Regions from separate parts of the Homo sapiens genome. Here region 2 is linked to region 1. Evidence: fine-mapped expression QTL. A gene starts in region 1. The other region holds a variant in brackets. All regions are shown on one strand. Distances are from middle to middle. Region 1 holds the start of KIF22 (kinesin family member 22). Region 2 holds the start of TAOK2 (TAO kinase 2).

What was found. PIP is the estimated chance that this variant, and not a neighbour inherited with it, causes the effect.
Region 2: its variant is fine-mapped to the expression of KIF22 in tibial artery (GTEx, PIP 0.99).

Annotation. Positions count from the first base shown.
Region 1 is chr16:29,786,181-29,797,385 of GRCh38, reverse strand. KIF22 (kinesin family member 22) reads right to left here and starts at 6,635. Exons shown (of 14, transcript NM_007317.3): 1 at 6,557-6,635; 2 at 298-493. The coding sequence starts at 6,626. It overlaps LOC105371167 (a long non-coding RNA gene), which reads right to left and starts at 9,873. Exons shown (of 2, transcript XR_950983.1): 1 at 9,840-9,873; 2 at 9,263-9,464. RefSeq lists an enhancer at 6,825-7,224.
Region 2 is chr16:29,965,626-29,976,830 of GRCh38, reverse strand. TMEM219 (transmembrane protein 219) reads right to left here. Exons shown (of 6, transcript NM_001083613.2): 4 at 8,577-8,806; 5 at 5,253-5,423; 6 at 3,783-3,881. The coding sequence ends at 5,286. TAOK2 (TAO kinase 2) reads right to left here and starts at 2,963. Exons shown (of 16, transcript NM_016151.4): 1 at 2,183-2,963. LOC124903762 reads right to left here and starts at 3,209. Exons shown (of 2, transcript XM_047435036.1): 1 at 3,051-3,209; 2 at 2,196-2,834. The coding sequence starts at 3,209. The coding sequence ends at 2,196. RefSeq lists enhancers at 70-569, 570-1,071, 1,873-2,002, 1,709-2,480 and a silencer at 2,904-3,273. The variant T/C (reference allele first, on the strand shown) is at 4,218.

The DNA.
Region 1 (11,205 bases):
CAACCCTCCTGATATGTCCCCCAGCCTCTACTTGGGGCTCACCTGCTCACCCTCATTGCTCCTCCCTCTCTGTGCACAGTAATGTATGTTTGATTCAACCTCTCATCTCTCCCTACAGTATCCCAGAGAGGGCCCATCATGGGGGCACCTGTCAACATTTCCTAAGTGAACAGTGAAGGCTCAGGGAACAAAGCGGTGCTAAGGAGGGAGCAAGGATCCTGGGGAGGCAGGGGAACGTGGGCAGGCCTAGGAGAGGGAGGTGATGGCATGAGGGAAGAGGAGTGGCCTGAACCTTACTGGTATTTGAGAGTCTCCTGGTGGTTCCTCCAGTTAGCAATCTCTAGAGAGCAGCTGTCCATGCCCCGCACACAGGGGGGATCACTTGCTCCCGCTGTTCCATCCACAAATGGCCGCAGTCGCACAGCCACCCTTACGCGAGCTGGAGGTGGACGACGAGTAGCTCCAATCTTGCTTAGCCGACAGCGACCAGCTCCTGGAGGAGAGAAGATCACTTTTAGACATGAAGTATGGTGGTAGCAGAAGAAGCAGGGACCAACTTTGCTGGGCGGGCTGGGGGCCACAGCTCATGTTGGAGAAGCTCATTCTGCCCTGGTCATGTTGTGGACACCCCTAAGCTTGGCCTCAGTGCCTTCCCTGCTCTACAAGCAAGTGCAGCAGGTGTATAGCAGGCTTCTCAGACTGTAATGTATACACAAATAACCTGGAGGATCTTGTGAAAATGTGGATTTGGTCTCCGTCTCCCTGGGGTGATGCCCGAGATTTTGCATTTCTAACAAGCTCCCAGGTGATGCTGGGCACTTAAAAAAAAAAAAGAGAGAGAGAGGGATGGAGTCTCACTAGGTTACCCAGGCTTGTCTTCAACTCCTGGGCTCCAGCGATCCTCCTACCTCAGCCTCCCAAAGTGCTGGAATTATAGGCAGGAGCCACCATGCCTGGCCCAGGACATGTTTTGAATTGCCAAGGGTGAAGTAGACCAGCACCTCACAGGGTTGTTCTAAGGATTAAAAGGGTTGACATCTGACCGAAACCTAAACCAGAGAGCGAACTGCCAGAATTTTCTGTGTGTGTGTGTGTGTGTGTTTTTTTTTTTTTTTTTGAGACAGTCTTGCTCTGTCACCCAGGCTGGAGTGCAGTGGCATGATCTCAGCTCACTGCAACCTCCACCTCCCAGGTTCAAGCGATCCTCCCACCTCAGCCTCTCGAGTAGCTGGGATTACAGGTCCCCAACACCACTCCTGGCTAGTTTTTGTATCTTCAGTAGAAACAGGGTTTCACCATGTTGGCCAGGCTGGTCTCAAATTCCTGACCTCAAGTGATCTGCCTGCCTTGGCCTCCCAAAGTGCTAGGATTATAGGTGTGAGCCACCCTGCCCAGCCTGTACCTCCATTTCTTAACTGGGGTTTCTAATATGTATTGAGACGTATGTATACTCACAGACCCACCCACCCCTGCAAACTGTTAATGATGATCTTCTCTTGATGGGGAATTATGTGGGTTCTGCAAAAACCACCGACATGCAATTCTTCTCTCATGTAAACTTAACCCTGAATTTGCTTCAGATGATTAAGTTTTTTTTGTTTTGTTTTGTTTTAGAATTGGCAACTGAATTATTTTTATCATCAGAAAACACAATGAAGATAAAACTTAAAAAAAGAAAAGCCCTCTATTTTTGTGGGGGTTAAATGAGCTGAAAATATCTAAGGAGAGTATTACTCTATTTTACGTTGGAGGATAACATACTGTAGCTCATAGTGGAATTCAAACCTAGATCTCTTCCCCTCTAAAAATCTGCTTTTAATAGGATGCTGTATTGCTTCCTTATTATGTACCAACTGGGAAAGCTCCTGGCAGCTCTTTCCCTTCCTTGCTGGTGGTAGCAGCTGGTTGCTAGGAGCCATAGGCCTCGCAGAAGGCAAAAGGCTGGCTGGTATACGTAGCCAACACAGAAACAGCAAGACGAAAAGGCAGACAGATGACCCCTACAAAGAATCTTACACCTAAGTAAGGCATGCCCATAAGCAGACGGGCTGTTTCAAAAACTGAACCTCCATTCCATCATCTGATAAATGGGGCTACTAATACCATTTCTCACGTTATGGTAGCAAAGCGCTTGGACATCTAGTTCTCATTTGTTCCTCATGGCAATCCTGAAAGTCAGGAGCAAGCAGGTAAAAACCTGCAGATGCATGTGTGCAGATAGAAAACTGAGGTGCACTGACTTGTCAAAAATATGTGCAGGACCTTCCTCTGCCTGCTTTCACAGGATGTTTTGGGAGAACAGAAAGATGGCAGATGTAGAAGCACTTAAGGAAGCGCAGTGATCAATCTAAGGGGAAGGGGAAGTCAGTAATGAGGTAGAGTGTAGACTCTGGTCAGACAGAAGTGGACTTCAATTCCAGCTCTGACATTTATTAGCTTGTGACCTTGGACCTTGGTTTCCTTGTCTGTAAAATAAGGTTGGGGGTGGGCCTTGGGCTTTTTGAGAATTTGGCCGGGCGCAGTGGTTCATGCCTGTAATCCCAGCGCTTTGGGAGGCCAAGGTGGGCAGATCACCTGAGGTCAGGAGTTCGAGACCAGCGTGGTGGTGAAACCCTGCCTCTACTAAAAATACAAAAATTAGTCAGGTATGGTGGTGGACGCCTGTAATCCCAGCTACTTGGGAGGCTGAGGCACAAGAATTGCTTGAATGCGGGAAGTGGAGGTTGCAGTGAGCAGAGATTGCGCCACTGCACTCCAGCCTGGGTGACAGAGCAAGACTGTGTCTCAGAAAAAAAAAAGATAATTGAAATAAGTGCCAGATAAAGTGGCAGCACAGTGACTAGCACATAGTAGGTAGGTTCATCATTCAAGGTAAAATGGCCTGGGTTGAAATCCCAGCTCTGCCATTTACAGCTAGCTAAGTAACCTAGGGAAATTATTTTCCATCCCAGTGCCTCAATTTCCTTACCTGCAAAATGGGAATAAAAATACCTCTTTGTTAGGTTGTTAGGAGAGTAATTAAGGTGATTCATGTAAAAGTGCTTAGAACATTATCTGGTATTTGGTGAAAGGCCAGTAAGTGCTTTTTAATGTCCGTCTCCCATTTTCCAGATGAGGAAACCTCAGTATAGAGGGGTTAGCTGACTGACCCAGGGTCAACAGCTAGTGACTGACAGCTTCAAATGAAGATCTAACTCCAAAGTGCTTTATATGAACCCTCCTCAGCCTCCTTAGCCCCTTCATCTTTGCATCTCATAAGAATGTGAGGATTCAAAGTAATAATGTACATACAATGTTTAGCACAGTGCCTGGCAGCAACTGCTCAGTCCTTAGCTGTTATTATTACACCCTTTCTCTTGCTACCCACTCCTCCATCCCTGCAACTTGCTTCTGCCCTCACTATTCAGCAGGGTCACCCATGACTTCCCTAGTGCTAGATCCAGTAGGCATACTCAGCCTCAATCCTGTTGGACCTCCCAGAAGTATGCGACACTCTTGGGAAACACACTTTTCCCTTCATTTCCATGCCCCCCACCTTCCTGGTTGTCTTACCTAGTTTTCTGTTCACTCCTCATCCTAGGATCCGTCTATCCTTTCTCTAGACCAGCATTTCTCAACTTCAGCACTACTGACATTTCGGGCTGGCTAATTCCGTTGTGGGGCTGTCCTGTGCATTTAGACTGTTAGCATATGCTTACTAGATGCCAGTAGCATTCTCCACCCTCACCCTCAAGTTGTAACAACTAAAAATCTCTCCAGACATCTCCAAATGTCCTGTGAGGGACAAAGTTGCCCCGAGCTGAGACCACTCAGATTCATTTCATAGGCAGGTCACCCGCCCTCTTGGCTTCAGTAACATCTTACAGCTGATAAGTCCTATTGCACGTTCTGCACAAGAGCTCTCAACTGCAGCCCACGTTCTGAACGGCTGCCCTGACGGCTCCTTTTTTTTGAGACAGAATCTCACTGTCGCCAGGCTGGAGTGCAGTGGCGCTCTTGGCTCACTGCAATCTCCGCCTCCCGGTTCAAGCGATTCTCCTGCCTCAGCCTCCCGAATAGCTGGGACTACAGGTGCACGCCACCACGCCCAGCTAATTTTTGATTAATTTTAGAGACAGGGTTTCACCATGTTGGCCAAGATGGTCTCGATCTCTTGACCTCGTGATCCACCCACCTTGGTCTCCCAAAATGCTGGGATTACAGGCGTGAGCCCAGCCGACGGCTCCTCTTAAACTCCACCTGTCCTAAACTGAACCCTCCTTCCCCATCTCTCTGCAGCCTCCTCCTTTGATCTCTGATGTAAATGAATGGCACCAACCCCAAAAGTGGGAGTCTTTAACTCCAACGTCTCTTACCTCCCACATCAGTTCATCATTAACATCTGTCAAGTCTATCTCTTTAAATCTCTCTTGAACAAGTCCACTTCTCTCCACTCCCACTGCACTACCTCTGCCCAAGGTCATGGTCTTTACAGCCTTCCTTGCTGGTGGTAGCAAGGTGTCTCCCTGCCCTCTAGTCATTCCCTCTGTTTCCTTCCTTGCAGTGTAAGTTACCAGTCATGATGAATTTCCTTCACTTCCTACAAAACTCCAAGTTCTCTTGCACCTTTGGATTTTTGTCCACGTTAATCTCTCTCCCTAGAATATCTGCATTGCTCCCCACCCCACCCTGGAGTGACTAAGGTAAACACATTTTAACTCCTCTTAAAAAACAAAACCAAAAACCCTTTCCTGGTAGACACTAAGGCTTTATCAGGTGCAACCACAGCTCATGTTAGCCCCTCCATAAGCATTTGTCACACCCCACTATTGCGTGTTTGTCACTTTCTCCACCTGACTGCCAACTGTGAGAACAAGTTTTATCCTGCTCACCTTTCTAACCCCAACACCTGGCGCAGAGTAGGCCCTCAAGAAGTATTTGCTGAAAAAAATTAAGATTTAGTGAATAAACTACTAATCACTGGCTTGTTCATTTCCATCATGAAAATGGCTCACGGCCATTCCTGCCCCAGGGCTCACAGTCCAGGGTAGGAGGGAAGAGGGGAGGGCCACATGTAAACAATTATTTACTGCACAAGAGTCTAGCCCTTTCATGATAAAAGCAACCTTGAGCTTGGACCAGGCTAGCAATTATTAATTTTCCCTTCTTTCACAATTCCTAAATTTCATTCACTCTTCTCCCTTTTATTGATGAGGAAATTGAGCTAAGAGAGCATCTTACATCATAAATAAGAAAACACTTGCTGTTCTTGTCTTCTTAGTCAAGGCCTGGCAAACTCCTATCCAACCTTTGAAACCCATCTCAAGTATCATTCACTCCCTTAATGAAGTCCTCCCAGAATACTCAAGGGCTTACTTCAGATTCCACACCCTCAGTTTATACACATCTCTCATTGTGTTTCGTATTACATCTACGTATGTGACACTCTATTGAAACAGACTGTAAATTCCTCGAGGAAGGGACATTATTCATTCAGGCATTTTCATATCTACCATGCACCGGACACAGTGCATCTTCGAAGGGTAAGGGGAGACTGTGCTCAGCCAGCAGGGATAACATGTACTTGGGCATAATGGTTAAGAGCAGAGGTTCTACACTCAGACTCCTTGAGAGCGAATTCAAGCCCCAATATTTACTAGTTGTGTTAACTCTGAACAAACTAACCTCAGTTTCCTGTGTAAAACAAAGACAGTAATAGTAACAACCTGATAGCATTGTGTGGACAATAAATGGTTCACCACCATAAAATGCCTACAACTGTGCCTGGCACATAGCAAGAGCTCTACATGTGTTAGGCATTCTCCTAAATGTCTGTTTCCCCACGAGGCTAACGAGGGCTCCAGTGAATTACTATGGCGCTCACCATCATCACTAACGAGGATTAAGTCTCCGGGTTAGAGAGGCACATGTAAACAAATACTCACATACAAGATTTTGGGTGTCCTAACAGCCTTTCCAACCCTAAAATAGCATTCACTTCCATGCTAGAGTGAAAGGAAATTTTAGTCTTTTATTTCGTTTTCCTGTAATCGCAGAGCATCTTACGCTGCCAACTCAAACCCAGCAGCAGCCGGGTCTGTTCCTCAGCCCGTCCTCTTGCATCTCTCAGGGATGTCTCTGCACCCAAACACCATGTCCCACACAGAACCCTTCCCAATACACGCCTCCGGCTCCCTTCTTCTCGTCCTCGTGGCTAGAGCGTCCGCCACTCTTCTCTTGCTTATTCAGGTGATCTCCAGGGATGAGGCCATGACCCCCGTTTCACAGACGAAGAAACCGAAGCTCACAAAGAAAAAGTGCGCGGGGTTCAAGCCAAGAGCCTGGACCGGAGACCCGAGTCTACTGACCCAAGGGGAGAGCAGGAAACAGGGAGAAGGCAGGAGCCAGGCGGGGCGACCGGCTCGCGACCCCACACTCTCACCGTCCCCCTCTCCCCGCCCCTGCGCCATGGCCGCCTCTCCGCGACAACCCGCAGAGCCTGGACCACACTCCGACACATAACTCCCACTAAACTCCAGACGTCGGTACCCGCCTTGCCCAGGCCGGGCTCAAGTACCTGAGATCGCCGCCGCTGAAGCTGCCGCCATCTCGCGTCGCCTCTGCTGCGTCGAGCCGCCCGCGGCCATTCCACTCCCTCCTTGGGCCCGCCTCTCCCATTCGAATTCCCCGGTGCCCCGCCCCCTCTCCCAGGTTCCACCAATCAAGACTACGCGCCGCCGGAAGCTGCTGCGTGTGGGTCGCCACTATCCCGCCTTCCAGCGCTCGCCTCCGGGTCCCCAAGAAAAGGTTCCCCTGGTCAGGACGCATGCGCGCGCGTGGGCCGCGCAGCCGTTGATGTCTGGAAGCGCGCTGCGATACAAACCCCTACGCAGGGATGTTGGCGACGGTGGCCGCTGGGGGAGCTGCTCAGCGCCGCCCGGCACTGGGCTCCCTTTCCCTTTACTTTCTGCAGTTTCTTGCCTCCGTGGGTGGTTGGCGCGTCTGCGGAGCCAGGGTCGTTGTGTGGATCGTGGGACTGCAGCCCCAGCCAAAGGGCTATCACGTCTGGTCGGTTCTGTAGATCTGGGCCCCAGGGGCTGGACTCTGGGCAGTCACGTTGCAGTCGCTGCCTGCTGGGCCCAAGGCCACTGTAGGTCCCCTCGCGTCCGTGTCAGCCCAGGAGAGCAGCTTGGATGTTCCTGTCTTTATAACTTGGCACTCAGCACGTCGGCGAAGCGTGGAAAACGCTTAGTCTGTGATTCAGTCCCACTCACCCACGGTTCCGGTTCCCAGTCCTTAAGAGTACAGCAGTCCGTTGAGTAGCTCTCTGTCCTTTCTGAAGGGTTGGCTAGGGACGGTCATTCCACTTTTGAGCACCAGGTAGGTAGGGCCCAGGTTTAGACATTATGTTCCACCCTGTTGAACAACAAAACAAAACACGGGCCGGGCGCGGTGGCTCAGTCCTGTAATCCCAGCACTTTGGGAGGCTGAGGCGGGAGGCTCACCTGAGGTGAGGAGCTCGAGACCAGCCTGGCCAACATGGCGAAACCCCGTCTCTACTAAAAACACAAAAATTAGCCGGGGATGGTGGCACGCCTGTAGTCCTAGCTACTCGGGAGGCTGAGGCAGGAGAATCGCTTGAACCCGGGAGGTGTAGGTTGCAATGAGCCGAGATGGTGCCACCGCACTCCAGCCACGGCGCCAGAGTGAGACTCCGTCTCAAAACAAAAAACACAAATCTTAGATCAGTGTTTCTGAAACGTTTTGCCTTGGGATCCCACTACAGTTTTTAAAAATGAGGCCTCCAAAGATGTTTTGTGTATATGAGGGTTTTTGTTTTTTTGTTTTTGAGACGGGGTTTCACTTCCATCTCCCAGGCTAGAGTGCAGTGGCTCAATCTCGGTTCACTCCAACCTCTGCCTCTTGGGTTCAAGTGATTCTCCTGCCTCAGCCTCCCGAGTAGCTGGGATTACAGGTGTGCACCACCACGCTCAGCTAATTTTTGTATTTTTATGGAGACAGGGTTTCACCATGTTGGCCAGGCTGGTCTCAAACTCCTGACCTCAAGTGATCCACCCGCCTTGGCCTCCCAAAGTGCTGGGATTACAGGTGTGAACCACCAGGCCTGGCCGTATATACTGTGTGTGAAGTGAAACTAAATTAAAGTTGACATTAATGAATTTAAAAATTACAGTAAAAAACCCATAGACATAAAAAGGACATCTAAGTAGTGGTTGCCAGGGGATGGTGAGGGGCTGAGGAGCTGGCACTACAGCAATAGATATAACGAGTTTCTTTTGGGGGTGATGGAAATATTAAATATTTTGGAATGAAGTAGTGATGATGGCTGCGTAACGTAATAAACATACTAAAAACCAGAGAGGTGTGCACTTTTTTTTTTTGAGACATAGTCTCTCTCTGTTGCTCAGGCTGGAGTGCAGTGGCGCAATCTCAGCTCACCGTAACCTCCGCCTCCTGGGTTCAAGCAATTCTCCTGCCTCAGCCTCCCGAGTAGCTGGGATTACAGGCATGCACCACCGTGCATGGCTGATTTTGTGTTTTTAGTAGAGACGGGGTTTCTCCATGTTGGTCAGGCTGGTCTTGAACTCATGACCTCAGGTGATCCATCCGCCTCGGCCTCCCAAAGTGCTGGGATTACAGACGTGAGCTACCAAGCCCTGCCTAGACCTCCATCTCTTTTTTTTTTTGAGACGGAGTCTCGCTCTGTGGCCCAGGCCGGAGTGCAGTGGCGCCATCTCGGCTCACTGCAAGCTCCACCTCCCGGGTTCACGCCACTCTTCTGCCTCAGCCTCCCGAGTAGCTGGGACTACAGGCACCTGCCACCACGCCCGGCTAATTTTTTGTATTTTTAGTAGAGACGGGGTTTCACCGTGTTAGCCAGGATGGTCTTGATATCCTGACCTCGTGATCCACCCGCCTCGGCCTCCCAAAGTGCTGGGATTACAGGCGTGAGCCACTGTGCCTGGCCTACCTCCATCTCTTAAAAAATAAAATTAGCCAGGCATGGTGGCACACACCTATATTCCCAGCTACTTGGGAGGCTGAGGTGGGAGGATTGCTTAAGCCCAGGAGTTTGAGGCTGCAGTGAGCCGTGATGGTGCCACTGCACTCTGGCTTCAGTGACAGAGGGAGACCTTGTCTCAAAGACACACAAAAAAACTAGATTCTCATATCTGCTTCTGCATTCATGCTGTTGTGATGTCACATATAATATAGTATTTTGAATACTCCACTATATACTTGAGAAACAATGCAAGAGAAGTCAATTGGTATCTTAGTTTTATTATGAAAATAGTTTTGAACTTGTAGACCCACTGAAAGTGTCTCAGGGACTCCCAGAAGTCTCTGGACCATACTTTGAGAACATCTGACATTGGCAATTGGCAGTTTGGTCTTCCTTGCCTGTCAGAAAAGGCTGTTCAGTTTTCACATTTGTTGTCAACTCCAGATATTTGGTAAGAAACCTGCCAGAAATAGTGAAAAGAGCATAGATCAAGGAGATAGGGCTTCTATGTTTGAATAAACCATTTAGGTACAGGGCCTTGGTGCCAGGCTGCCCAGACCAGAGATTTAGCCTCTTTGTGCCTCCATTTCCTCAGATATTAAAAGGGAATAATGGTTGAAATACCTCCTAGGGTTGTTTTAAGGATCTGCATCTGGCTGGTAGAAATTAGGGTGGTTTGGCCAGGCGTGGTGGCTCATGCCTGTAATCTCAACACTTTGGGAGGCTGAGGCGGGCAGATCACCTGAAGTCAGGAGTTTGACACTAGCCTGGCCAACATGGGGAAACCCTGTCTCTACTAAAGACACAAAAATTACCCCGGCGTGGTGGCACACACCTGTAATCCCAGCTATTCAGGAGGCTGAGGCAGGAGAATCACTTGAACACAGGAGTTGGAGGTTGCAGTGAGCTGAGATTGCACCACTGCACTCCAGCCTGAGGGACAGAGCAAGACTCCATCTGAAAGAAAAAAAATTAGCCAGATGTGGTGGCATGTGCCTATAGTCCCAGCTACTTGGGAGACTGAGGCAGGAGGATCGCTTGAACCCAGGAAGTGGAGGTTGCAGTGAGCTGAGGTCATGCCTGTGCACTCCTGCTGGGATGACAGAGAAAGAAACAATTGATTTTTAAAAAATAACTTCCAGGCCGGGTGCAGTGGCTCACGCCTGTAATCTCAGCACTTTGGGAGGCTGAGGCAGGCAGATCATGAGGTCAGGAGATCGAGGCCATCCTGACTAACACGGTGAAACCCCGTCTCTACTAAAAATACAAAAAACTAGCTGGGCGTGGTGGCGGGTGCCTGTAGTTCCAGCTACTCGGAAGGCTGAGGCAGGAGAATGGCGTTAACTCGGGAGGCAGAGCTTGCAGTGAGCCGAGATGGCACCACTGCACTCCAGCCTGGGTGACAGTTGGAGACTCCTCAAAAAAAGGCTGCTCACGATGGCTCACGCCTGTAATCCCAGCACTTTAGGAGGCCGAGATGGGCGGATCACAAGGTCAGGAGATTGAGACCATCCTGGCTAACACGGTGAAACCCCGTCTCTACTAAAAATACAAAAAATTAGCCAGGTGTGGGGCGGGCGCCTGTAGTCCCAGCTACTCGGGAGGCTGAGGCAGAAGGATGGCGTGAACCCAGGAGGCGGAGCTTGCAGTGAGCCGAGATGGCGCCACTGCACTCCAGCCTGGGCGACAGAGTGAGACTCTGTCTCAAAAAAAAAAAAAAAAAAAAAAATTCCAAACTATGTCTTTAAAAGAAGCAAAGGAGGTCAGATGTAGTGGCTCATTCCTGTAATCCCAGCACTTTGGGAGGCTAAGGTGGGAGGATAGCTTGGGTCTAGGAGTCCAAGACCAGTCTGGGCAACCTAGTGAGACCCTTCTCTACAAAACATTTTAAAATTAGCCAAGTGTGGTGGCGCATGCCTGTACTCCCAGCTACTTGGGAAGTTGAGGTGGGAGGATCACTTGAGCCCAGGAGGCTAGGTTGTGGTGAGCGGAGATCATGCCGCTATTGTATTCCAGCCTGGGCAAAAGTAAAACATAGAGTTTGTGCCATAAAAGATAATTAGTGGGTCTAGGCCTGGCGCGGTGGCTCATGCCTGTAATCCCAGCACTTTGGGAGGCCGAGGCGGGCAGATCACGAGGTCAGGAGATCGAGACCATCCTGGCTAACACGGTGAAACCCCGTCTCTACTAAAAATACAACA
Region 2 (11,205 bases), 180 kb before region 1:
AGGTGAGGTCACTGAGGCACAGAGAAGAAAAAGGACTTCTCCAAGGTCAGAGAACAGGACCTTCGGCTCCCCGGTTAGGCCTGTATCCATTACTCTCTCAGCTGTCACCCCAAGCTCAGCTCCCCTCTTGCAGGAAGCCTGTCCTGACCACTCCAGCCATTGGGAAGAGCACCTAGGGCACCCAACCAAACACCCGGAGAAAGTTCCTGCAGGATACCAGAACCAAAACCCTCAAGGAGATTCCAAGACAGGCTCCAGCCTAAGCACTTGTCAGAATTTAGGCACAAAGGAGCCTTCAGCAGAGCTGGACTCCTGGGGCAGAGTTCTAGCTACTCAAAAGCACCTAACAATTTTAGCATGTAATTTATTCTGTCATGCATTGTTTCCTGTTGTGTTGTTAATTTTGTCTCAGCCCAACTGGAAGCTGGAGGGCAAGGAGGGAGCCTGACTCTCCAGTGGGCCCCCAGGGTGCAGAGGGCTCAGAATAGCCTGGGAGACTGAGTGATTGCTCTCTGCTCAGCCCTCAGCAGCTCGCAGGTTGCTCAAAGCCGGCCCTTTTCTCCCTTCTGCCAGCAACAGTGCCAAGCACCCCTCACCAGCACCACACACCCACACACAAAGGCAGGTGCTCTCAACTTGCCAAAGGAATCTTCCTGACCTCTTTACCAACACAAGGCCCCAGAATGCTAACCTAGGCCACACGGAGGGGTGCCACCCACTGGCAAAACATCATGCAGGTCCCCTTCCCCATAATAACAACAAACACTTGAACAATAACCAAGGTCTGTGCTAAATCATAACCACCTTCCAAAACGAACAATGTTATCTCCATTCTACAGATGAGGAAACCCGTATCTATCTGTTCCTAAGCTATGCTACCAGTACATCCCGTCTGCAATGTACAGCAACAGGGCTTTAAATAAGTTCCTTCCAGTTCTTGGTCTTCTCTTCAGTGAAATGGATTACAGCATGGAGCTGTTGTTAAGATTTTAATGAGATCTCATACTTAGGAACACCATGCAGACACTCAGCATATGGATTTTTCCTTCCCTGCCTCCAAGGTCCCCACAAAGCTTTAATCCTTTGGGGGATCATTCTACCCCAACAGCTTGGCTTGAACAGTTAAAAGATGCCACTAGTGCTACCATTTGTCAGGAGAGAGCCCTCTCAGGAATCCAGGCCAAACCCTGGGATTGGGGTAAAGATGAAGGTCACAGTGGATAGAAAACTCCATGAGGCAGAGGCAAAAGCCAGAGGCTCCCATCAGGAAAAGCTTCTGAGTAGAGCCCTCCTGGAAAGGAAGCTCATCTCATCCCCATTCTTAAACCTCACCCCAGCCTGGACTCCTAGGGACCCCTGGCCGAGCCCAAACTCAGAGGAAAAGAGATGGCAAGAACCAGGCATGCATCAGGGAAAGATGTGATTGAGGACTTGAGTTCAAATTCTGGTTCTGCCACTGTGTGACCTTGGGCAACCTCTCTCGGCCTCAACGTTCTCAACTGTAAAATGGGAAGATGCCAATAAAAGAGGCCCCCACAGGGTGAATGCGGGGATGTCACATGAGAGAATGGCTGTCAAAGCACTTTGTAAAAGACAGATCGTTTGACAAATGGATGAGATTATTGACACCATCACAGCAAGAGGTTGGAAGGTAACTGCAGCTGGGGGAAAACATTGCCAGGCACCTCCAAGCACACACACACACGCATACACACAAACACATATACACACACTTCCTTGCAAGGACAAGAAATCCAACCAGACCAGGCCTGAAAAGCAGATAAGCAGACCCACCATGGGAATCAGAGGCATGGGAATCAAAACCACAGAATAGCCAGGAGAACGGGACATATCAGGGAGGAGAGGTGGCTGTGAGGGGCAAAGTGAAGGAGAGAAGACTGAAGTGCAAATCCATCTGATTAGCTGAAGCACCCTAGGGTGTGAACGCCGGTGACATCAGAGACCCTGTCACCTGAGGTCCCCCACCAACCAGACACAATGAAGGGAAGAGGAAGGGGAAGGGGGTGGCAACAGAAGGCAAGGCTAGCCAGAGGCTGACCACTCGCTCAGCTGGGCTTCCCCATCCTGAGAGGGCCTACCCAAGTCCAGCTTCTCAGAAAGGCGCACCCTTTCTTCTCAGAACTAGACACAGGGACCCGCGCCCCTGCACCCCGTGTCTCACCTGGTAGGGGTCACTATGGTGCCCCAGCGCCTCCGCTTCCGCCTGGGGTCCTCCAGCGGCTCTGCCAAGCAGGGAGAGGGGCAAGGAGACCTTTCCCCTTGCCACCTCTTCCTCGGCTTTCGCCCTTCCTGAGGGGCGGGCCCGGGAAGCCTCCCCTGGAGGGGAGGGGGTGACAACCTAATCTGACCTCGCGGTCCAGTCCTCCCCCTCGTCGAGGGCGACAGCTGCCGAATTCCGGATTTCTGATTGTGGGGTCTGAACCCCGAATATCTGAACGGGATGGAGACTGAATCCGATATTTGAACGCCCGGGGAATGAACCCCGGATACTGGTGCACGCAGGGGCCTGAACCTGATATTTGAAATTCTATGAAACAGAGACCCAGGTTTAGAGAGGTTGGGACCCGAGTCCCGGATATCTGGACTATGAGGACTGTTACCCGGGTATCTGAGAAAGGAGGAGGGGCAAAGCCTGGAAATTTGGGACCCAGGGGCCTGAGCTGTAGGTCTTCGGCCACCGACTGGGGGCCCACCCCGAGGACGTCCGGCCGCACGGCCCCTCTCACGCCGGGGTCCGAGGGTGACAGCCCCCACTCCCGCCCCGGCCTCCTCCCTCTCCCTTCTCTCTTCCGAGAATAGCTGAACGATTGTAGCTAAGGTGCTGCTGACGGTCCCCGCGCCCTCTCTGCCTCTCCTCTTCTCCGTCTCAGCCTCTCTCCGCACCACAGCCCCGGTCTCGTCCCGGTCTCCCTCTCCCTCTTCCTCCCAATTCCAAGATGGAGACCGGGCGGGAGCGCGCAGGCGCGGTAGGGACGCCGGGCTAAAGGGGGCGGGGGCGCAGAGGACTCAGCCCCGCCCTCTCTCCTCACTGCCGCGGCCTGGGAGACCGGCAGCCGCCAAGCCCGAGTGCGCGCCCGCCCCGCCACGCGGACCCCAGGCCGGAGGAGGCGGGGAGAAGAGCTAGACTTGCAAGGGGAGGAGCCCGGCACTCTGTCCCACGACTGGCGGTGGACAGAGCTGCAGCGCATGCGCTCGCCCCGCCTTCGCTCTGAGCCCGAGCTTGTTGCTAGGGGAAGCTTTGAGGGGGCGCGGGTGGACGGACAGCAGCGGCGATCTGCGACTGCGCGCAGGGTGGAAGTTGGGAGGGGCAAAGGAAGCTGCTGCTGGGCGCGGAAAAGGCGGGAAAATAGACTGCTCCGAGGTTAGCAACCATCTAACCTGGAAAAGGGCCTCCAAGTGCGAGGAATCTTTGCGCGTCGACGCTGGGAAAACTCAATCGGTCAAATCTCTTACGGAAATTGAGGCGCTGCAGGTTGCAAGACTTGCCAAGGTCACAGTGCATTTATGTCACAGCATTTCCATGACCTGACACCCCACCCGCCCAACTAACTGTAATTATCCATTTTATTTCGTAGAAGAAAACAAGACAGGTGTTTACCAAAGCCAAGTCAACCATGGGGAGAGCTCAAGTAACCTATGCCCTATGCCAACCTGTGTCCAAACTAGAGAGTCAACAGGAAAGAGTCCCCCAAAACTTCTAAGCCTGCCTACCCTAAAATCCCCACCTCAATCCAACCCCCAATAAACACCATACACGCCACTGGGCAAAAAAGCTTTTTATTTTCCCCCACATTCCAGCTCTTCACTTTTTCTAAAACCTTTTCCAACTCAGAGCCAAGGCCCAAGAAGTTGATTCACACCTGGGGAGAAAGAAAATAAAACAACAAAACAGGTCGAAGAGCTGCTAGAGGAAGCTCTGAGATGTGTGCAGAAATTGAGGAAGGAGCAGAGGGAGTGACAGCTAGAGACCAATACGGGCATTTAATCCCAACTAAGGTAGCCTCAGGACCCCAGGGTCTGTCAGGGGCCAGGAAGCCCTCCTTTCCCAGTCCAAGGTTGAGAGGGTCCTGTCATTTCCTGTCCCAAGTAGGTGGTTGGGGCATTTAGGCCCAGCCATCAGCAAAATAAGCACAGTTGATCTTGAGCTTCCACTTCCTCTGGCCTGATCAGTTCCCTGGGCCTCAACTATTTCCACT[T/C]TTCCCATAGTAACTTCCTAGGGCACTGCAGCCAGCTGAAGCTGAGACCAGTTCAAGAGCTGGATGCATAACACATGGCTCTCAAATTTCATGCACCCCCCTCTGACAAGTGAAGATTTTTTGCAGAAATATTTTTTCCTTTAGTGAGCTGATGTGTGAACTGGTTAACCAACATGACCCCCACCCACTGCTACGTTTGTGAAGCTGATTCCCTCCAAAGATCTTGTTAACGGAATCAGCTTTTTCTAAAGGTAACGATGACTAAATGGAAGACAGAAGGTGCATGTCAAGTTCTTGGGCACATACTATGTCCCCAGTAAATGAGTATCATCAGTTAGACTCTTCTGAGCGGTTCAAGTTGAATTTTACAAAATTTCCATCATAAAACTGGGTATTGGAATTTCAGGACAAAAGCAAGACAAACATGGTTCATATTCAGGACAAATCATCAAATGTGAACCCTCTTAACTCACCATTGTTACCCAAATGCTTGGATGTGAACTAGTTATGAGTCTTAAAATCACAATGTTGCTTGAAAGAAGTCAGCCACAAAAGAATGTGTATGATTCTGTCTACATAGTTTCAAAAATAAGTAAAACCAAACTATATTATTTAGGAATACATACATGGCAATACATTATAAAGCAGGACAGTAATTTCTAGGGAGAGAGAGGGCATTGTCAGGAAGGAAGGGACCATGGGGGGTTTCTGGACAGCTGGTAATATTCTACTCAGTGGTATTTATAAGTATCCACTTTATAATAATTTGCCAAGCTGTCCTTTTATACTATTGGACTTTTCTACATAAGTGTTAACTATTTTATAATAAAAAAGTTAAAGTAATTAGAAAAATATTGAATGCTGACGGTGTCAAATTGTTCCCAGTCCCTAAGGGAGAGCTGTGGTTGAAGAGGTTCTCGGGGACTCAGAAGCAGCAGTCTTTGAGGAAAAGTCCAAGGATCTGCTCTACCCCGGTTACAACCCCCACCCCCACCCCATTCCCTGCTCCCGCAGGACTGGAGCAAAGAACCTCACCTGAGAAACAAGTCGGGAACTAGGCCAGTGCCCTCAGAGCCGGGTTCTAGACCAGTGGGACTCCCGGCGCGGGTGGAAGCACATAGCAGTGACACAGCAGAGAAGGCCACAGAAGAGAAGCAGGAAGGAGCCCAAGACCAGCAGCCTGGAGCCACACAGAGCCAGCTCCTCCTAGGGAGGGGTACAGGGAGAGGAGGAGGAGGACATGTTAATCCAGTCCAAGGGCTATAGAAGGAGCCTCCATGAGGGAGAGGGCTCTCCACATCTAGGGAGCAACTGAAGGGAAAATGTTATTTTCATATAAGCTGACATTTGTCTTTTTTTTTTTTTTTTGAGATGGAGTCTTGCTCTGTCGCCCAGGCTAGAGTGCAGTGGCGCGATCTCAGCTCACTGCAAGCTCCGCCTCCTGGGTTCACGCCATTCTCCTGCCTCAGCCTCCCAAGTAGCTGGGACTACAGGTGCCCGCCACCACGCCTGGCTCATTTTTTGTATTTTTAGTAGAGACGGGGTTTCACCGTGTTAGCCAGGATGGTCTTGATCTCCTGACCTCATGATCCGCCCACCTCGGCCTCCCAAAGTGCTGGGATTACAGGCGTGAAACACCGCGCCTGGCCCTTTTTTTTTTTTTTCTTTTTGAGGCAGGGTCTCACTCTGTAACTCAGGCTGGAGTGCAGTAGTGCAATCTCGGCTCACTGCAACCTCCGCCTCCTGGGCTCCAGCGATCTTCCCACCTCAGCCTCCTGAGTAGCTGGGACCACAGGTGTGTGCCACCACGCCCAGCTAATTTTTTGTGTGTTTTTTTGTAGAGATGGGGTTTCACCATGTTGCCCAGGCTCGAACATTTGTCTTGATGGTTTAAAAACTACTTTCTTGCCCAATTATCAACCTGAAACCCCATCATAACTCCATGAGATAGGAAACTTCATTATGATCCACAGTTTAAAGATGTATAAGTGGCTGGGTGCGGTGGCTCACACCTGTAATCCCAGCACTTTGAGAGGCCGAGGTGGGTGGATCACGAGGTCAGGAGATTGAGACCATCCTGGCTAACACAGTGAAACCCCATCTCTACTAAAAATACAAAAACTTAGCCGGGCATGGTGGCGGGCGCCTGTAGTCCCAGCTACTTGGGAGGCTGAGGCAGGAGAATGGCGTGAACCTGGGAGGCGGAGCTTGCAGTAAGCTGAGATTGCGCCACTGCACTCCCGCCTGGGCGATAGAGCAAGACTCCATCTCAAAAAAAAAAAAAAAAAAAGTGCAAGCAGTGCTAGATCTGGAAACCAGATCTCTGATTCCAAGTCCCAGGTTGTGCTCCTCATGGGGTCTTTTCTTTTTTTCTTTATTTGAGACGGAGTCTCACTCTGTTGCCCAGGCTGGAGTGCAGTGGCATGATCTCAGCTCACTACAACCTCTGCCTCCCAGGTTCCAGAGATTCTCCTGCCTCAGCCTCCTGAGTAGCTGGGATCACAGACGCCCGCCACAACATCCAGCTAATTTTTAAATTTTTAGTAGAGATGGGGTTTCACCATGTTGGCCAGGCTGGTCCTGACCTCAAGTGATCCACCGGCCTTGGCCTCCCAAAGTGCTGGGATTACAGGCGTGAGCCACCGTGCCTCATGGGGTATTTTCAAATGTGAGAGTGGAGTGTGCAGCAGCCTCCTGACTGATGGCCCTCCTCCACTCAGCCATTCTCCACCCAGCACCAGGGAAGCACATCTCTCTCCTCCTTAAAACTCCTCAGTGGCCCCCACGGCCTTCAGCATCAGGTCATAGCCCTCTATCCTGCATTCACAGAGCCTCTCCATCAAATCCCTGTGGTCTCTCTTGCCTTTTCTCCTTCCTAAGCCTCTCAACATGGAGTGCTCCCAAAGGCTGAACACTTTCTTTTTTTTTCCTTCTTGAGACAGGGTCTCACTCTGGCAACCAGGCTGGAGTGCAGTGGCACAATCATGGCTCACTGCAGCCTCAAACTCCTGGGATCAAAGGATCCTCCCACCTCAGCCTCCTGAGTAGCTGGGACTATAGGTGTGTACCACCACACCCTGCTAATTAAAAAAAAAAATGTTTTTTTTAAGAAATGGGGTCGCCAGGCGCAGTGGCTCACACCTGTAATCCCAGCACTTTGGGAGGCTGAGGTGGGTGGATCACGAGGTCAGGAGATTGAGATCATCCTGGCTAACAAGGTGAAACCCTGTCTCTACTAAAAATACAAAAATTAGCCGGGCATGGTGGCAGGCGCCTGTAGTCCCAGCTACTCGGGAGCCTGAGGCAGGAGAATGGCATGAACCTGTGAGGTGGAGCTTGCAGTGAGCCGAGATTGTGCCACTGCACCCCAGCCTGGGTAACAGAGTGAGACTCCGTCTCAAAAAAAAAAAAAAAAAAAAAAGCGAAAAAGAAACGAGGTCTTGCTATGTTCTCCAGGCTGGTCTGGAACTCCTGGCCTCAGGCATTCTCCTTGCTTCGGCCTTCCAAAGTGCTGGGATTACAGATGTGACACCTGGCTGAACACTTTTCAATCTCTAGGCCTGTGCGCATGCTGGTGCCTTTGCCTGGAGTGTACCTCCCCCTCTCCTGAACCTCCTCTACTGCAGTCCCTGTCCAAATCTTCCTCATTCTTCAAGGATCATTCTGACTTGACAGAAGGTGTGGGTTGCAACCCTGGCTCTGCCACTTAACCAGTTGTGTGGCCTGCAGCAATTCACTCCCTTTCTCTAAACCTGTTTCCTCATCTGTAAAATGGGATAATAACACCTACCTCAAAAGGCTATTTTAAGATCAAATGAATTAATGAACCCTGAGAGCACTTTGTGCATTATAAACCACTGTGCACAATGCTCTCTGGTAAATGCCACCTTCTCTGTGATGCACTCTCCATAAATGTTCAAGTTAGGGTTAATGGCTCCTTTCTCTGTGTTTGCATAACACTTTGCTCACATCTCTCTAATAGCAATTAGCCCATTTGCCTCTTATTATAGCTTCTGAACTCCTTTGAAGTAGAGAGAATGTTTTAAAGACAATAGTAAACAACAATAGCTGTCACTTATCAAATCTCTATGTCCCAGGCAATGTGCTGGGCACTTCACGGTCATTCTCATTTAATCCTTATTTGATGGAATTAAGAGATAGGGTCATGTTTTCTGTTTTACAGATGAGGATGCTGACACTCAGAGATGTTTAGACACTTGTTCTACGTCACACAGCCCCCAAGGCAGGGTTATAAAACCTGTGCTTTTTCTACAAGGTAGAATTGTTTCCAGGGACCTTCAAGATACAGTAGTCAGCAGGCAGTCTACAAAACCCTGGCGACCCATCTGAGGCTCTTACCGAGGTGAGCAGCTTGGTCAGCACAAGGCCTTCATGGCTCCAGACACTAACACATTCCTCACCCATTCTAGGGCTCAGGGTGGCATTTCCAGCCCCCTCCTCTGAGCAGGATATGGGTGGCTGGCTGGAGGGTAGGATTCCTGGAACAGCACTAAAATATAGGCAGGTTCCTGCAGTCCTTTCTGTGGTCACCCTGGCTGTGATAAGGACCAGTTGTCCTGCAGAAGATCCTGTGAAAGGCACAGAAGAGAAAATGGAAGAAAATGAGAGGTGACGCGGGAGCCTCTGTCTTCACGCTTCTTTTCTTGTATTTTCTTTTTTTTTTTTTGAGGCGGAGTCTCGCTCTATCACCCAGGCTGGAGTGCAGTGGCGCAATCTCGGCTCACTGCAAGCTCCGCCTCCCGGGTTCACACCATTCTCCTGCCTCAGTCTCCCGAGTAGCTGGGACTACAGGTGCCCACCACCAGGCCCAGCTAATTTTTTGTATTTTTAGTAGAGACGGGGTTTCACTGTGGTAGCCAGGATGGTCTTGATCTCCTGACCTCGTGATCCGCCCGCCTTGGCCTCCCAAAGTGCTGGGATTACAGGCGTGAGCCACCGTGCCCGGCCCTTTTCTTGTATTTTCTTTCTTTCTTTATTTTTTTGAGATGGGGTCTCACTTTGTCGTGCAGGTTGGAGTGCAGTGGCACGATCCCAGCTCACGGGAGCCTCAACCTCCTAGGCTCAAGTGATCCTCCCACCTCAGTCTCCTGAGTAGGCAGGGCTACAAGTGTGTGCCACCTACCTGGCTAATTTAAAAAAATTTTTTTGTAGAGACAGGGTATCACTGTATTGCCCGGGCTGGACTCAAACTCCTGGGCTCAAGCCATCCTGCTACCCTGACCTCCCAAAATGTTGGGATTCCAGGCATGAACCACCACGCCTGCCCCTAGTCATTTTTTAAGGCTTTCTATAATACCAGGTGTTTTGGCATTGATTCTATTCAATAAAGTATTCCATATACCATTATTTATATCACTGAGAAATGAAAATAACTTTGTATCAATATAAACACAAATTAAGTTGTAATTTAAATTAACTTAAATTACAATCAATACAACAACCATACTAATACTCGCAAGGCTGCAGTGAAATGGGCAGATACACATTGCCCATGTCAGTTTGCATAAACTAGTTCATTCTTTTTAAGAAAGCAGTTTCTCACTTGGTACCAAAATCCATTAAAAGGTTCTCACCCTATTTTAAATTAGTGGGGAAAGGATGGCCTCAGTAAATGGCCTTGGGAAAATTTCCATGTAGAAAAAAACATAGCGTCAAACTGTTATCTTATAAAATAAAGTTCAGATGTATTAAAGAACTATACAAACTAAAAAAAAACTTAAGTATTTAAAGAAAATACAGAATATTTTATTTTATTTTATTTTATTTTATTATTTTTGAGACAGAGTTTCACTCTTGTTGCCCAGGCTGGAGTGCAGTGGTGCAATCTCAGCTCACTGCAACCTCCACCTCCTAGGTTTAAGCAATTCTCCTGCCTCAGCCTTGTGAGTAGCTGGGATTACAGGTGCCCACGACCATGCCTGGCTAATTTTTTGTATTTTTAGTAGAGACGGGGTTTCATCATGTTGGCCAGGCCAGTCTTGAACTCCTGACCTCAGGTGATCCACCTGCCTCAGCCTTCCAAAGGCTGGGATTATAGGAATGAGCCACCACGCCTGGCCAGAATATTTTCTAATTTTAAAATGAGGAAGGGCTTCCTATGAAAGACACAAAACCTAAAAGTTTTAATAAAGGACAAGAGTGATAAACCTAACCTCATAAAAATTAAAGACTTCTATGCAATGAAAGATAAGTTAAAAAAACAAGTAACATATTGAAAATACCTATAATATATTTAAATGACAAAAGGTTTACTATCTAGAATAAAGACCTACAAATCAAGAAGAAAAAGACAAATAACTTAAAAGAAAAAGGAACAAAGGAAACAAACAGGTAATTCACAGGCAACATGAATACAGACAATAAACCATAAGAGGCTCAACCTTACTAGCAATCAAGAGAAAGTAAATAAAACAATTGGGTAATACGCCAGACCCGGTAGCTCATGCCTGTAATCCCAGCACTTTGGGAGGTGAGGCAGGAGGATCACTTGAGCCCAGTAGTTTGAAACTAGCCTGGGCAACATAGTGAGACCACATCTCTATAAAAAATACAAAAATTGGCCAGGCGCAGTGGCTCACACCTGTAATCCCAGCACTTTGGGAGGCCAAGGCGGGCGGATCATGAGGTCAGGAGTTCAAGACCAGCCTGGCCAACATGGTGAAACCCCATCTCTACTAAAAATACAAAAATTAGCTGGGCATGGTGCCACATGCCTGTAATCCCAGCTACTTGGGAGACTGAGGCAGGAGAATCTCCTGAAACTGGGAGGCAGAGGTTCAGTGAGCTGAGATCGCATCACTGCCCTCCAGTCTGGGTGACAGAGCAAGACTCCTTGGGCTGGGGGGCGGGAATTAGGTGAGCGTGATGGCGAGCACCTGTAATCCCAGCTACTCAGGAGGCTGAGGCAGGAGAATGTTTACTGCAAGCCCTGCCTCCCAGGGATAAGCAATCCTCCCACCTTAGCCTC